2 separate regions of the Homo sapiens genome follow, and region 1 is reported to be linked to region 2. Evidence: microRNA targets listed by miRTarBase, many of them from high-throughput screens and not tested one by one. Region 2 holds a microRNA gene; the other region holds the end of a gene's coding sequence.

Region 1 (3,340 bases), not on the chromosome of region 2:
CAGGGCTGACAGAGGGTTTAAGAAACATTTATATTTTCTTAAGTCAGATACTGTCCTAGACACTGCAGATAAAAAGACGTATTTCACACAAGCTCCATCCTCCTGGAAGCCGCAGTCTAGAGGGGAGGCCTCCCAGCTGTTAATGGTATATTCTACAATGCAGTAGCTCTAACACGGGTATGAGGCCCAGAATGAGAATCCAGAGGCGGGATCAACCAACTCTGCTTTTGAAGGCTTCATGGAGGAAGTGATGATGGTTACGGGTTCCCAAAGAATGACTATGAGTTGCACAGGGCAAGAAGGGAGGAAGGAGTTCCCAATCCACCAAGGAGGCCAATGGGCTACTTTGTGTTGCTCCTGAAACACATATACCAAGGGCCAGATAACGGTACCAGCTCAGGGAAGTGTGGCAAGGAGCTCCACAGAGCCCAGGTGATCTATGGCTGCTGAGTGGAGGGAGGAGTCTGAAGTGGGCACCACACCAAGCACTGAAGAGCTGGCCACATTTGTGGAGGGGGAGCTCCCTGCTTCTGTTCCTGCCTCCTAAGCAGAGGCAGTTTCCACAATGCCAACTGTCTGGGTTGTGGTTTGAAAGAGATCAGACAGGGTGCTCCAAGCCGCCCCAAAAGGACAGTTTTCTGGGGACAGGACTTTTCTGTCACATCTTCCTTCAGCGGCTGATTTTCAAATTTTGGTATTCATAAGACTCTCCTGGAGCAGCAGTTCTCCGAGTGTGTCCTGGAGACCAGCAGCATGAGCATCACCTGAGAACTTGTTAGAAACGCAGCTTTTCAGACCTCACCCAGACCTATTCAGTTAGAGACTCTAAGAATGGAGCCCACTCCTCTGTGTCTTAAGGAGCCCTCCAGGCGCCTCTGATTCTGACCTAAGGTGTTCATTACAAATACAGTTTCCTGGCCAGGAATGGTGGTTCATGCCTGTAATCCCAGTACTTTGGAAGGCTGAGGCCGGTGTATCGCTTGAGCCCAGGAGTTCGAGATGAACCTAGACAGCATGGCAAAACCCCAGCTTTACAAAAAAAAATACAAAAAAGAGCTGGGAATGGTGTTATGCACCTGTAGTCCCAGCTACTTGGGAGGGTGAGGGAGGAGGATGGCTTGAGCCCAGGACAGGGAGGTTGTAGTGAGCTAAGATCACATCACTACACTCTAGCCTGGGAGACAGAACAAGACTGTCTCCACCACCCACCCCACAAAAAAAAAAAAAAAAAAAAACAAAAACAGGTTTGAGATTATGAATCATTTGAGTGACCAAACATTTTAAACATTTTGCCAACTATTGCAGCACCTCCATGGGTGTTGCCTTCTCAGCCACACCCCTAAGCAGGCCTCAGCTTTCCCTGACACTCCTCTGCACATTTCTGGGGTCACTTTTACCTGAGCCTGGTATTCAACTCCTCACTATGCCATTTCCTATCAACTTCTCTGAACCTTAGTAACTGCAACTATAAAATGGGACAGTAATACAGATTACTATAAGACAGTGCAGGCTTGTCAAGATTCAAGATGTTTCTGTGCCTATTACCCAGGGTTCAACCCTCTGCTAGTTACAGTGGATAATTACAGGTTAGTTAAGAAAACAAACAAACCTGGAAATATATGGTAGTCAGTGTGTCCCCACCGATGGATCAAAACTGACTAAAACACCTCCAGAAAGCATTTAAAGAGTGTGCCAGGTGGGGATTCTGGGCACTGTTACCTCCTTTCTAGGCCTTCAGCTTCTTGACCAAGGGCCATGTGGAATCAGCACTGTTTGGGTTCCTTCCTCTTGCCCACCTCTGCCCAGGGCACACCTGTGCTTGGTTCCACCTGCAGTCCACCACCCACCACAAAGGCCTCCAATCTGGATGCAGACTCATATATGAAGATGTTAGGAAGAAGAATTTCTGTGTATATTGGGATATTTGATGGAATGGCCTTGTAGAAACTTTTCCAAACTTGAGAGACTAGGATTGATCTGGCATTACTTGACCAACAAGTTGTTCTGAAGTCTTTGGCAGCAAACATCTCTTCAGAAAGTTCATTCTTGATTCAGTGGTCCCTTTCATGATTGAATTATGCTCAATGACTTCCTCAGCACATTTCCAGAATATTAAGGCTTCCTTCAAGAATATAATATTTGAACAAAATCTGTCGTCTCTTTTGATATGGGGTGATATATTAGCTCTATTATGCTTTTAAATTAGTTGGTTTCAAATGATGTATCCTGGATCAGGCCTCTGGAGCTTGAGATAATTTCTCTCTCTCTCTCTCTCTCTCTCTCTCTCATACACACACATACACAATCTACCTAGAAAAAGATCATTCTAGAATGTAGGGGGGTGAGGAATTTGTGGCTCTCACTTGCTATAGAAAAGACAGTCTTGAATCCAAGTTCATGGTTCACTCCAGGCTGATGCAAAATGCTTTCTTCCTCAGATGGTAGCTGAGTGCTACAATTGGCAGCTTAAACAGCCAAACGGGCACAGCCAGAAGTAAATACAGCTGGACGTTAGCCTTAAAAGCTGTCTGTTGTGAATGAAAAGTCTGAGGTGAGTCAAGCAAATTGCAAAGATTGGCAGGTGAGGAGGTGCTACCCTGTACGGCATGGGGAGAAAAAACATGGCAAAATGCTTGGATGAGTCAACTTCCCTGCTGTAGGTGAGGCGATTTGGATGAAGCATCCATACTTTTAAGAGATACAAGACTGGTGTGTCTGGGTGTATTGCTTCGCAGGTAAATTGAGTGTTGCCTAAATTCTGAACACCTCTTAGCCAAGAGCCAGCATCCCTGTTCTTTTCACTGAGGCACTGAGGCATGTGTGAGTTCATCAGAGGATGCCAAAGTGACAGTCAAAACACAGAATCCTCCAGGGTCTCAACTCCAGGCTTCTCTATATAACAGATGACTTCAATTTCCGTCTCACTGGACCCAGCTTTCTGCAAAACAAATCATCTTTCCTTAGATGTCTTTTAGAGAACTTTTGGGTTCTTTGAAATCTTTACAATTGGCTTTAAGTCTATTATTTTTTAAATAAAAATAGTAAATGTTCACAAAGAAGATGTGAAAAATAAAGTGGGAAGAAGAAGAAAATACCTAGCCATACATCTATCTCCCAAACACAGCCCACTGCTTCTCCTAAGCCTTTCTTTCTAGGCATAATGTTTTCTTTAGACTTACTTGAAGTCATATGGATACACATCTTTTTTTTTTTTTTTTTTTTTTTTTAGACAGAGTCTCACTCTTGTCACCCTGGCTGGAGTACAGTGGCATGATGTCGGCTCACTGCAACCTCCACCTCCCAGGTTCAAGTGATTCTCCTGCCTCAGCCTCCCAAGTAG
Region 2 (3,419 bases):
TGGGATAATATATTCAAAATGCTGAAAGGGAAATGTCAAGCAAGAATACCATACCCAGAAAAACTACCTTTCAAAAATCATGAAGAAATGGAATCTTTTCAAGACTAGGAAAAATTGAAAGAATTTATCACCTCTAGACTGGCCCCACAAAACAATGCTCAAGAGAGTCATACATCTGAAAATAAAAGGGTGACTCCTACCATCATGAAAACACATTAAAGTGTGGTACTTTAAAACTTAGTGGTAAAGCACACACACAAATGAGAAAGAATAGAACGATACTTATCAAAGAACGGAAAGAATGTAGAAAGTGAAGTATGCAGAGAGGTTGGTTAATGGTTATTTATGTAGAGTTAGATAGAAGAAGCAGTTCTAGTGTTTGATAGAACAATAGAATGACTACAGTTAACAGCAATATATATTCTGTTTTAAAGTAGAAGAGAAGATTTGAAATGTTTTGAATGTAAAGAAATAATAAATGTTTGAGATTATGGATATCCTGAATACCTGACTTGATCATTACACATTCCATGCATGTATCAGAATATCACATGTACTCCATAAATGTGTACAAATACTATATATCGCTTTCAAAAATGTAACTAAAAATAATAATTGAGGGAACCCTAAAGAGCTTTTGGTTATATGAGTTACAAAGTTTTGTGATAGAGCTGATTTTGTACTAACTCATCAGAGCTGCTTTTTAAAATTTCAGGAAATTTTGTTAGAAGTTTGTTCAACAACCAGGTCACAAATTACATTCTATACAATTACAATTAAGTAAATTTTATTAATACAAAAACCCCACAAAATATTCCAAAAATAGTAAGATGATGTCATATATGCTGGGGTACAAAAAAAAAACCCCAGTGTTTTCTATGAGTTTAGAAGAGGGCCAGCTAAATCAGCAGAGACATGAGGTGATCAAAAACCTTTTTTCAAAGCAGTGGGAGCTGGACTACTTCTGAACCAATATGGCCTATGCTAATGTAACTTAAAGATAACCACCTGGCTCAAACATAAATACTAGACGTAAATTCACCCAGAGGGGCTCAGGACTAGTAAGTAAGCTGTTGGAAGCCAAATAAAAGCATTTTCTAGCTAGAGGTAGTGCCAAAGACTTAGTCTACTCATTTCCCTTGGGTTTCTGTAAGTGAAGTACATTTCATTTCTAGTTATCTTCTATATGGTGCTGTCAATAACACCTTCCTAGCAGAGCTGTTGATTTATTAAATGAGATAATATATTAAAATTGTGATGATACATAAAATACCTCAATATTCTGTGACAGAAAACATCAGCTCTGTGTACAGGTAGACTAAGGCTTTTCTTACCTCAGGGCCCTACACAGAGCATGTGCTAATTAGTGGCTTATCAAATTATCAATTTGATATGGATCTGAGTTTTAGTGACTGTCAAGATCACCAAAAATCATGCAGTTTGTCTTGTGAAAACAGATTATGACCTGTATGAAAACTTGTATTATAACATATGCTTTATTATTAAAATACCTTTTAATTTAAAAATGCAAAACTGTGTTAAAATTTTAAATGACCATTATTATTATTACTTTGAGATCATAATCTTAACATTTTAAAAATATAATAACACAGAGTAGTTTCACTTTTATGCTGCGTTTATTCCACTTAATGTCATGTTAATATGTTAAATAAAAATATTTTCAGTGCTGCTTTAAATTGCCCTCGTTTAGTAGCAATAGATTTGGGCATCTTAATGTACTTATTGACGGTTTGTATTTTTTTTATCTTTGCTCAACTTTTCTTGCTGTCTTATATGCTTTTATTGGGGACATATTTTTGTTTATGTTAGCAGATATTCAGTTTTGTCATATATTAGGAAACATTTCTCTCTCTCGCTCTCTCTCTCAGTGTGTGTGTGTGTGTGTGTGTGTGTGTGTGTGTGTGTATGTGTTATTGTTATAGGTTGGTTATTAGGTTGGTTTAAGCTAGTATTTGGCTTAAAATTTACTTATGTTATTTTTGGCTCACCCTTATATTCTTTTCATAATTTACTTTTCAATTTTTATTTATAATTTTTTCTTTTCCTTAAAAGCCTAGAAAAGCTTTCATTTAGGCTACATTAATACATATTAACTTTTCTTTAAACTTCTATTAAATGATCTTATTTTAAGTTTATTTGGAATTTGTTGTTTTATGGTATGAGGTAGGGATTAAATGCTTTTTATTTGAATACTGGTTAACCAACTGTCATAGCACCATTTATTGAATAAACTATCATTTCTCAAGTAAATTCAAATTGTCCTTGGTACTTATAATTCTTTGGCTATTTCCATAGAAATAAGTTGAGAGATGGATTAGGTGGGTGAATAGGCCCATGTGTTATATTTGAAAGGTTAAATTGGGTCTTTGATATCCAAGTTGAGCTAGATCTTTGATTTATATATCAAATAGGAAAGCTGAAAGTATATCACCTGTGCTAGCAGATAATTGTAAAATCTATGGCAATTTCACTGGAAGTGTACCCTGATGTATTACCATATCCAAAGTTTGGAGATGAGATGCTTAGCTCTTTTAACTAGGAAACAAAGGGTGTCAACAGCTAGTTTTTTACAGTTCGCTGTACGTCCTGAAGCCTGAGAAGACTTTGTGTCACCTGTGAGTCCTAAGAATGAGTAAATCTACAAGATGCCCCTTCTTGTATTTTAGTGCCAGCTGTTTGCAGAACATTTGTGCAACCTCCAGTCTTTATCATCCTTTTAGATCACCTGAAAATAAGGGCATTTTAGGTATTTTAGAGGTGGTGGTCAAATCATTACCATGACTGTGTTGAACACTTAAGCCTGGATATGGATAAGAAAGAGGACGGACGTTGTAAGTGTTACCAAAACACCAGGAGTTTGATCTAAGTTCTGCTACTTGCCAAACAGAAAGCCAATCACTGTGACAATGAGTATTGGAAGGAAGAAGGCTTTAATTGGGTGCTGCAAGAAAGGAGATGGGAGATCAGTCTCAAATCCATCTCCCTGACCAACTAAAGTTAGGGATTTGTATAGCAAGGAAAAAATGTAACCATGAGTCGGAAAACAGGAATTAGAAAAGGGTAAGGAAGAGGAGTTGGTCAACAGGAAGCAGATGGTTGGTTATGCAATCATGACAGTTGAGGAGTTTCATGTCTCACTGTCCAACAGCAGTGACCTGCTGTGTTTCTGCTCTGTGATATTATCTGAGAGACCTGATGGTTGGTTCCCTGAGAAAGGAACTCAGGTAAGACAAAGGAAACTTTCTCAAGTTTTAAGACTGAGAGGATCAATTTCTATGCTTATTCAAAGAAACAACATCAGCTTTACGGGACAATTGGGCCGGTTTCACAAGTCCAGAATGGGGTTGTTTGCTTGCAAATTTCACTCCAATCTTGCTTGAGGCTAAGCCCTGAGTACA

What was found. The annotated mature microRNA hsa-miR-4300 reads UGGGAGCUGGACUACUUC and lies in region 2 at 948-965, shown strand. An mRNA with a match to its seed (bases 2 to 7 or 8) in the 3' UTR can be bound and repressed. Matches are read on the target gene's strand: a 7mer-m8 pairs with bases 2 to 8, a 7mer-A1 pairs with bases 2 to 7 and ends in A, and an 8mer does both.
Region 1: the mRNA of IL5RA is a reported target of hsa-miR-4300. Seed matches in the 3' UTR shown: 7mer-m8 at 516-522.

The regions. Positions count from the first base shown.
Region 1 is chr3:3,067,374-3,070,713 of GRCh38, forward strand. IL5RA (interleukin 5 receptor subunit alpha) reads right to left here. Exons shown (of 12, transcript NM_175726.4): 12 at 1-2,938. The coding sequence ends at 2,852. Among named protein-coding and RNA genes, the nearest start is that of CNTN4-AS1, 7.9 kb to the left of the region's middle.
Region 2 is chr11:81,888,297-81,891,715 of GRCh38, reverse strand. MIR4300 (microRNA 4300) reads left to right here and starts at 880; the gene lies at 880-975. All of the region lies in intron 6 of MIR4300HG (MIR4300 host gene), which reads left to right.